Homo sapiens: one gene and its partners. The protein of the gene in region 3 purifies or fractionates together with the protein of the main gene of each other region. This does not show direct contact. Each region holds a gene or a part of one and is shown on either strand. Other genes may lie near its edges. The genes, in order: ECPAS, ATG2B and SLC7A9.

Evidence for each region.
Region 1: the proteins of SLC7A9 (region 3) and ECPAS purify together in Homo sapiens (affinity purification with mass spectrometry; one large-scale study listed by BioGRID and IntAct). This does not show direct contact.
Region 2: the proteins of SLC7A9 (region 3) and ATG2B purify together in Homo sapiens (affinity purification with mass spectrometry; one large-scale study listed by BioGRID and IntAct). This does not show direct contact.

Annotation. Positions count from the first base shown.
Region 1 is NC_000009.12:111,372,778-111,376,433, forward strand, and holds part of ECPAS (proteasome adapter and scaffold protein ECM29), read right to left. Parts: intron 2,426-3,656; coding exon 2,336-2,425; intron 1,262-2,335; coding exon 1,195-1,261; intron 630-1,194; coding exon 538-629; intron 460-537; coding exon 393-459; intron 1-392. UniProt on the Homo sapiens protein: Adapter/scaffolding protein that binds to the 26S proteasome, motor proteins and other compartment specific proteins. May couple the proteasome to different compartments including endosome, endoplasmic reticulum and centrosome.
Region 2 is NC_000014.9:96,278,566-96,281,045, forward strand, and holds the end of ATG2B (autophagy-related protein 2 homolog B), read right to left. Parts: 3' UTR 630-2,480; downstream 1-629. UniProt on the Homo sapiens protein: Lipid transfer protein required for both autophagosome formation and regulation of lipid droplet morphology and dispersion.
Region 3 is NC_000019.10:32,859,748-32,863,403, reverse strand, and holds part of SLC7A9 (B(0,+)-type amino acid transporter 1), read left to right. Parts: intron 1-817; coding exon 818-943; intron 944-1,186; coding exon 1,187-1,286; intron 1,287-2,753; coding exon 2,754-2,798; intron 2,799-3,439; coding exon 3,440-3,563; intron 3,564-3,656. UniProt on the Homo sapiens protein: Associates with SLC3A1 to form a functional transporter complex that mediates the electrogenic exchange between cationic amino acids and neutral amino acids, with a stoichiometry of 1:1.

The DNA of each region.
Region 1 (3,656 bases), on a different chromosome or scaffold from region 3:
TCCCAGCACTTTGAGAGGCCAAGGTGAGCAGATAGCTTGAGCTCGGGAGTTTAAGACCAGCCTGGGCAACATGGCGAAACCCCACCTATACAAAAAATACAAAAATTAACCAGGCGTGGTGGCACGTGCCTGTAGTTCCAGCTACTCAGGAGGCTGAGACACAAGAATCGCTTGAGCCCAGGAGGCTGAGGTTGCAGTGAGCTGAGATAGCACCACTGCACTCCAACCTCAGCGACAAAGCCAGACACCATCTCAAAAAAAAAGAAAAGAAAAGAAACAAATGTTTCTAGCAAATCACATAAAATCATGGAGGGTAAGACCTAATTTGTACTGTTTTACTGGGCTGTTAACATCTAAATTTAAAATGACATAAAATAGAAAAAGAAAGGTACCTTCTTTCTCCATATACCACCCATTGAGCTTCTGCAGGAGTTTTTCAGTGCTGCTATCCCGTGAGGTCTGAAAAAGAAACAATCCTAAGTATTTCTTTATAACTGTCAAAGAGTTTTATTTAACTAAGCAAGAAATTTAACTCACCCGAACTAAATGGCCCATAGCAAATGCACAAGATTTCTGAATCACACTGTTCCGATCTGTCAGGCCACTCAGCAAAGCACTCATAAGTTTACCTACCAGAAATAAAGAGAAAAAAATCTGATACTTGGTTGACCAAATGTTCCACTCTGTTCCCAGAACCCAAACAAACCTAACCCTGTAATTAACATCTGATTTACTCCACAGTAGTTTAGATTTCTGGATGTTATATTTATATATCCATTTGCTTCCTTTTACATGATATAAAGTTAAAATTAAACTAGAATATCGTGGAAAAAGATGCAAAATAAGAACGAGGTATATAAAGAACACTAGTCCAGTCTAGAAGCCAATCTAAGAAGAGAAAAATGCTGATGTAAAATCAGCTATCAATGGTAAGTCCTGTGGAAAAGAGGATACTTTTACCTCCTTATACCACTAAGGAATAATCAAATGTTTATGAACAGTGAAAAGCTGCTAAACTTGATAAACTCTGCACCTCCTGCAGACAAAGAAATGAAGGAGTCAGGGGACTGAGGGGAGAAAAGGCACACAGCATCACAAGCAGGTCTGAATGATAAGTATTTTTCCTTTTTAAAACTCTGTCACACAAGACAGGGCTGTGCAAAAATATCACCACACATCCCTTGACAAACTCACCTGAGTAAGGTGTTAGGTCCTGAGGACACTGAGTAGTTAATGACACAATGACACTGGCACAGCCACCCTACAGGGTTACAAAAGCAAAGGTCTAAATCTGATGGTCACAATGTTCTACCTACCAAACCATTGGCTTAGGTGCCAAAAATTTAAACATATAAAATACATGAAGCCTAATACCCCCTCCAGGACTCAATATAGAAAAAGGCAAACTCTTAAACTAGTAATGCAGCGATTTTTTTTAAACCTCCAAGAGAAAGATGGGTGATCTCAGACATTGTGAAAAAGAAAGAAAACTGGTACAATCTTCTGGAAAAGCAAAATATGTCATCTTGTCCATCACTGTGCTAACATTTCCATTTCCAGAAATTTAACCAAATATCTTCAGGTGTGCCTGAAGACACTCATCACAGTGCTTTACTATTTTTTTCAAAAACTGAAAACAAATCAGATGTTCCTTGATGGAGTAAAATAAATGATGTTACATCCATACAGTGGAGTATCATACGGCCATTAGAAGAGGACACTGCAGAAGATACATGTGCAGAAAAGACTGGAAGGAAACACTTCAAAATATTAACAGCAGTTATCTCTGTATGGCAAAATTCTGGACAATTTTTATTTTAACTTTCTCCTAATCTATAAATGCTAAAATTTTAAAATACCAGCAAGTGTTAATTTTGTCATAAGAAAAAATGTGAGTTATTAATTTGTTGTTAAAAGGGTGGTAGGGGGGTGTCTGATCCTTCAAAGATCTTGAAAACTAGGACATTTTTCTATTCAAACACTGCTGACCCCTCTGTGAAAAATGCAATTGCCACCTAAAACAATCCATGCCCTAATAACTGGATGTGCATTTCCATGAACTGCTAATGAATGACAACCCAGAGGGTATGTACACGGCAACCAGAGAACAGAAATGATTCCACTAAATAAGTTAATACTTACTGGAACAGTTAGATGTTTTATTTCTTGAACCAGTTACATGTTTTCAGTTATCAGTGCAACCACAGAAATAAAATGGTTAGTGTATAATATTAGATTTTGTGGTAAAACATGAATTTCAAACATGATGGCTGTTATATCCTTATGGCCAGAACTAATGAAGATGCACATTTCCTCTTGTGGAAAGTACACTTACCTTAGTTCCAAGACCTACACCACTTCTGATCAGTTCACACAACCTAGGAACTAGCTCGCCCAGCACTGACACATCAAGGTATTGCAGGCACTTTTGAAAAAGGACAAATATAAAGGTAAGCCTTGGCAAATAAGTCAGGACCACATCTTCAATTAAAAACTGCCCTTGTCAAACGTGTACCAACTGGATTTGACATGAAGTTGAAAAATCACTGCTTGCTTCTGCTCTGATTTCAATATTAAAACCACTATTGTACTACAAACAGAAAAATTATTCATCAGTGATTCAACACTAAAAACAAACAAAAAAATGAAAAACATCAATTTGCTAAAAAAGAAAAATAATGATTACTCAAGAATGAAGAATCTTTCTGGGCCTACTTCCTCTTTATCAATCCATGTTTAGTATAAAAAACCTAAACTAAATATTGATCTTCTACAGTGGGCCTACCCTACCAAACCCCCTCTAATGAGTCAACTTCTTAGATGACTTTTCCTATAAATTGCTGGCCTTTATTTTTGAAAATGCAATTAACATGTTTTCTATTACTAATGAATATAACTAAATGGTATTCACTAACTATTCCTATTTCTTTAAATTTTTATTTCCCCCCAATAATCCAACTAAGACATAACATTCTTAGACCAAATTTTGGTAATACTCCCCCAGCAGGCACTAAAAAATAGCTACTTCTCTTCACCAGTTTAACATAGTTTTTTGTACACTTCAGTTTTTTTAGGGGTTGGATCTATACCTTCAGAGTCCTGCTAAAGGTACAGATCTGCTTAGCAAACTAATTTCCAGTAAACACAATCATAGCTAACTAACCATTACAGGGAATGCACAACAGAGTAACTTTACCAAGACTCCAGGAAGTTTAGAAATCAGAACCTCAGAATGCCAAGCAGCCCTTTACTGCAAATGCCTTCCTATGACTAAAACAACATATCGACATTGCCCAATCTCTTCACATACCTTTATGTTACCTACTTCATTAAATACCTCCACAGCTTATAACTTTCCTAGTTCCTCCCAAAGATAACTATTAGGCACAGGCACAACTCTGAACCTTTCTAAATAGGCAGATCAAAAGACTACAGATGTAAATTTATAGAGAGCTCTTGATATGTTGTTGTCTCTTGTAATACAAATTTGGACCAACTGTTTCTGGTATTTGGGGAATTATTTATTCCACTTAGTAACAGAGAAGAAAAGAGAAATATACTAAGAAAAAACTGGAGTCACAACAGCTGCTTGACTCATCCCATAAGTCTCTGCTTCATTTAACATAGCCTGAAGACTTTGAAGAATTACACTTTCA
Region 2 (2,480 bases), on a different chromosome or scaffold from region 3:
TGGTGTTCAGTCTCTTGAGAGATGGATGAAGAAGGAGGGGCATCCTAATCCCATTCCCACAAGGAGAGCCACAAAAGGTGAGGAATGGCCATTGGCTCACATGACTTTGAGGCCAGGGCAGGCCCAGAGCTGAGAGGGGATTAGAGAAGAGCTACCAAGTCTTCACTTGGCTCAGAGACAGCCACGAGGTGCCTGTGGGCTTCCCTTACCCTGTGCTGCCCACCATGTGCTGAGTATTTCCTTCCTAGCACCTGTCTGTCACATGGAGTGGTCACATCTCTTGCTGGGACCCTGGCTGATACTGAATGTGAATGTTACATTGTCAATACTGATACTGAATGTGAATGTTACATACCCTGGCTGATACTGAATGTGAATGTCCCCCTGCCCTGGTGAATGAGGCAGGGCAGTGTAATACACTGGGTCTCAGAACTTGTCTGCACATGAGAACCAGGGGATCTCTCAAAAATGCCAAAGCGCAGCCCACACCAAAGACCAGCTAAATCCCAATCCCTGGGGTGTATTTTTAAAGCTCCCCAGGGGACTAATGTGCAGACAAGTTTGGGAACCATGACACAGTGGCCAAGAGTGTTGTCGAGTGCCAAGCAGAGGAGTCGCCACATAGGAAATAGTCAATCAATGATGAACTTTTATTTCATATATATTTATATTTTAAAAATTATTACAAGTATTGCTAAAATCAAGAAAACGTGAGCTTACATTGAATAAAGGACATCTGTAAGTAGTAATCATGTGATCTTGGGCAAAGAATTTCCCCTCTCCGGGCTTCGATTTCCTCACCTGCAGACAGGACTAGATGACCACTCGGGTTCACTCACTCATTCATTCATTCATTCACTCATTCACCATTTGCTGATCCCTGACTCTGGGCAAGGCACTGTGCTAGGCACCGGGTCCCTAAGTCCCTTGCCCTCCTGAAGGAAGTCAAACAGGGAAACAGACGTGGATCTACAGTATGCGGGGAGTGCCGCAAAGTTTAACAAACAAAAAAAAGGAAAGCATGCTATAGTGGGAAACAGAGAGGAAGGGAGGGTGGCCAGGCTGCCTGAAGTGGAGCCTCCGGGCTGAGACAGCAGGAGCAGCCAGAGATCCCGACAGAGCATCCGAGTTGGGGCGGCCATAGCGCGTTCTTGCCCCAGGCTGTGCATGATTTTCCCCAGGAGAGCTCTTAGCCCAGTGATTTTTAACAGGGGATTTTTGTCATATTTGGCATATTTGGCCATGTCTGGAGACGTCTTTGGCTGTCACAACTGGGGGAGGGGAGTTTGTTACTGGCATCCAGTGGCCAGAGGCCAGCGGGGGGTGGGAGGGTGGCAACATCCCCTGCATCCTACAATGCACAGGCTGGTCCCAAATGTCAACTGCTGAGGTGGAGAAACCCGACTTTAGCCCCATTCTGAGATTTTGCTTTAATCAGTGTTGACTGTGGCCTGTGGTGCAGCATTTATAGAAAGAAATCTTCCAGGTGGTGCTAACCCCTACTCACGGGCATGCAGAACTGAACCGCTGGGGTGGCTAAGCACAGCCAGAAGAGGGGAGAGGGGCTGGAGACGCCAGGAAGAGATCAAGCACATTTTCTTGCTCAAATATTCTAAGAGCCTTTAATCTCAATCTTCTAGCAAAATTCTGTGGTTTCCCAATTAGTGAAGACTTTTTGCTAAGTTAGGTAACTGCTCCAAGCTTTTCTTAAATGAAGTCCTGGGAAGAGCATGAGGTCTGGAAGTCAAACCATGTGACGGTGAGCAAGTTTCTTGACCTCTCTGAACCTGTCTCCTCATCTGGAAAACAGGGACTCTAGTAACTGCCTCTGAGTGGGGGCTGTGAAATTATAAAAAGACAGTAGGATACTTGGCACACAGTAAGCATCTCACAATTGTCCCCATCCCTTTTTTCAACAAGAGCCATGGGTGAAGTGTGACTTGTCATTTTTTCCCTAATTGTTCAAAGTGGATGTTATATAGTCACATCTGTCACAACAAAATCTTTTAAAGTAAATTGCCCTTAAAAATAAGTATGTCTGGCCAGGCACGGTGGCTCATGCCTGTAATCCCAGCATTTTTGGAGGCTGAGGTCAAGAGTTCGAGACCAGGCTGAGGTTAACCTGGCCAACACGGTGAAACCTCGTCTCTACTAAAAAAACAAAAAATTTGTGGGGCGTGGTGGCAGGTGCCTGTAATCCCAACTACTCAGGAGGCTGAGGCAAGAGAATCGCTTGAACCCAGGAGGTGGAGGCTGCAGTGAGCTAAGATTGCTCCATTGTACTCCAGCCTGGGCAACAAGAGCAAAGCTCCGTCTGAAAAAATAAATAAATAAAATAAAAATAAGTATGTCTTTTAAATATTCCCTTCATAAGTAAAAATACTCCTCCAAATAGTTATCAGTTTCGTGATATCAAACTAGGAGGTGTGTTTGCTGCAAGTCCTTATTGCAGGGATAGGATAACTAATAGAGGGACTAAA
Region 3 (3,656 bases):
TGTAATCCTAGCACTTTGGGAGACCAAGGTGGAGGGATTACATGAGGTCACGAGTTCGAGACCAGCCTGGCCAACGTGGCAAAACCCTGTTTCTACTAAAATACAAAAATTAGCAGGGCGGGGGAGGGGGGTGGTGGGGTAGTGCATGCCTGTAATCCCAGCTACTGGGGAGACTGAGGCAGGAGAATTCCTTGAACCCGGGAGGTGGAGGTTGCATTTAGCTGAGACTGTGCCATTGCACTCCAGCCTGGACGACAGAGTGAGACTCCATCTCAAATAAATAAATAGATAAAAATAAAATTACAAAAATTGGATATGAGGGCGATCTGGCAGGGACATCTGTCACCCCACTGATCGCCAGGGTTGATTCAGGTGATCTGGCTGGCTAGGCCAGTGTCCTCTTCCTCCCTCACTGCTCCACGTGCATCCCTCCCGAAGCTGCGCACTCGGTGGAAAAGGATGACCATCCCCGATAGAGGAGGGCTGGTCTTCGGTCAAGGGTATATGAGTAGCTGCGCTCCCCCGCTAGAACCTCCAGACAAGCTCTCTACTAAAAATACAAAAATTAGCTGGGCATAGTGGCGTGCACCTGTCGTCCTAGCTACTCAGGAGGCTGAGGCAGGAGAATTGCTTGAACCGGGGAGGCAAAGATTGCTGAGATCGTGAGCTGAGATCATGCCACTGCTCTCCAGCCTGGGTGACAGAGTGAGACTCCATCTCAAAAAAAAAAAAAAATAAAAAATATATAAAAGAAAGGAGACTCTCTCCAGGGCTTTGCTGAAAACCATAAATGCAGAAACTGTCCCCACCCTTCCAGTGTTCATCTCGACAGTGAACTCACTGAGCGTGCGGCTGGGAAGCTACGTCCAGAACATCTTCACCGCGGCCAAGCTGGTGATCGTGGCCATCATCATCATCAGCGGGCTGGTGCTCCTGGCCCAAGGTGACCCACGGGAGGGTGGGCCCTGCACGGGCACACACCAAACGCCCTTCCACTGGGAGCAGGAGCAGCCTTGCCCCACGAGCCCATCTCCAAGGAAGCATGGCAGGAACTCGGTGGGAGGGATCCTTAGTTTCAGGGCGTGTTTATTAAGCTGGGGTCACAATCATGCCCATCTTTCCCGTGGAGATACACTCAAGATCTGCCCGGTTGACACCCGCCGTTCACTGTCTGGCTTCATTACAGGAAACACAAAGAATTTTGATAATTCTTTCGAGGGCGCCCAGCTGTCTGTGGGAGCCATCAGCCTGGCGTTTTACAATGGACTCTGGGCCTATGATGGATGGTGAGGTGTCCTGAGATGTCCCGAGTCTGGGGGTGGGTGGGGTTCTCCAGGTGACTTTAACTCCACCTGTCATGGAAAACAATGAGTTCTCCTTTCTGGGGTTTGGTGTGACTCTGACATTCACCCTCACATTTCCTTTTTGTGAAGGATGCGACAACCTCTCCCCTTTATTCCCTGAGACACCTGCTCAGTCAGCCAGAGTGCTCTGTGTAGAACCCTCACTGGGCCAACACAGGCTCAGCCAAATCAGAGGCAGCCAGGGCCCAAGCTCAGGTTTTCTGTTTTGTTTTGTTTTGTTTTTTTAAGACAGGATCTCACTTGGTCACCCAGGCTGGAGTGCAATGGCGTGATCATAGCTCACTGCAGCCTTGAGCTCCTGGGCTCAAGTCAGCTTCCCGCCTCAGCCTCCTGAGTAGCTGGGACTACAGATAGGAGCTGCCATGCCCTGATAATTTTTTATTTTTATGCTTTGTAGAGACAGTCTCTCTGTGTTGCCCAAGCTGCTCTCAAACTCCTACACTCAAGCAATTCTCTCTCCTCGGCCTCCCAAAGTGCTGGGTTTACAGGCGTGAGCCACTGCGCCCAGCCCCAAGCTCTTGATTAAACAAAGAATACTCAATAGCACTTCTATTTAACCTTGAAAATCATTAGGTTTGGGAGCCTCTCTGAATCTATTATGGTTTGGGGGACTGCCCTACAAAAATAAATAATACCATATAAATTTTATATATTTATCGAGTTTAGTGGATGAGATTCTGTTTTTGTCCTTTTTTTTCTTTTTTTTTTGAGACGGAGTCTCACTCTATTACCCAGGCTGGAGTGCTGTGGTGAGATCTCGGCTCACTGCAATTGCTTGAATCCCCCAGGTTCAAGCAATTCTCCTGCCTCAGCCTCCCGACTAGCTGGGATTACAGGCACCTGCCACCATGCAGGGCTAATTTTTGTATTTTTAGTAGAGACGAGGTTTTACCATGTTGGCCAGGCTAGTCTTGAACTCCTGACTTCAAGTGATCTGCCCACCTCGGCTTCTCAAAGTGCTGGGATTACAGACGTGCGCCACTATGCCTGGCCCATTTTTGTCCTTTAAGGAAGAAGCATGGCCATCTGCAACGATGGTCCTTCTCTCCTGCAAAGCATTTATAGATTTAATTCCCTTTTCAGACAAAGAATATTCCATTTTTTCAAAGCACCCTGGGGACTCACTACTCCTGATTATTCTTGAAAATCCGTGTGATTCCCGAGGAGGGCAAAGGCTCAACCAGCTGACAGATGTGTAGGTCTGGGTAGGGCCCCAGGCCCCACCACTAGCAGGGCCATTCACCTGGAAAAAAATTCACCTGGAATTCCTGCAGGAGAATTTTTTTCTCTGGTAGAGAATCTTAAATGAGGCCAACATTTATTATTGTGGGTTTCATTATCGAAAAAGAAAGTCAAGGTGTGTGACGCTTGTTACTTTCCTTTTTCCAGGAATCAACTCAATTACATCACAGAAGAACTTAGAAACCCTTACAGGTAACAGCTGAATCAGTGCAGAGGACAGTAGCCGGGCAGCCTGATTTCTCTTCTCCTGGTGAAGGCTGGAGCTATTTCCCTGGGTATTCCATGATGCCCTTCCCGACAGTGAATTATTTCTTTTTTTTTTTTTTTGAGACAGAGTCTTGCTCTGTTGCCTAGGCTGGAGTGCAGTGGTGCAATCTCAGCTCACTCATTTTTGTATTTTTTTAGTAGAGATGAGATTTTGCCATGTTGGCCAGGCTGGTCTTGAACTCCCAACCTCAAGAGATTCGCCCATCTCGGCCTCCCAAAGTGCTGGGATTACAGGTGTGAGCCACTGCACCCGGCCAGCGAATGGTTTCTTATGAGCTCACTATGCACGCTTAGAGTTTGGTTTGGTTTGGGACAGAGCAGTGGCTCCTAAGGGAGGGAAGAGCTTGGTCTTCCTTTATCTCTGGCTTATTTTGCTTTATAAACAGTTCCATGTGAACTGCTCTGGAGTCTGAGAGAGGCAGCATTCTCATTTGAAAATGTCTTATGTTCCTGCTGGGCCTCTGCTACCTGCGAATCTTCTCCCTGGGAGGGCCTCAGGGAGGGCGTCCATCTTCCGCGGGAGGCTGTGGTCTGAACGTGGGTCTCCGTGTCATTGCCCCTCCCAGAAACCTGCCTTTGGCCATTATCATCGGGATCCCCCTGGTGACGGCGTGCTACATCCTCATGAACGTGTCCTACTTCACCGTGATGACTGCCACCGAACTCCTGCAGTCCCAGGCGGTGGCTGTGGTGAGTGCCCGGGCATCGCTGCTGGCGGGGGCTGTGGCTTGTGGGAAGGGGTAAGGCAGGTGTCAGCACTGGAGGTGAGCTCCCTCCCAGGGA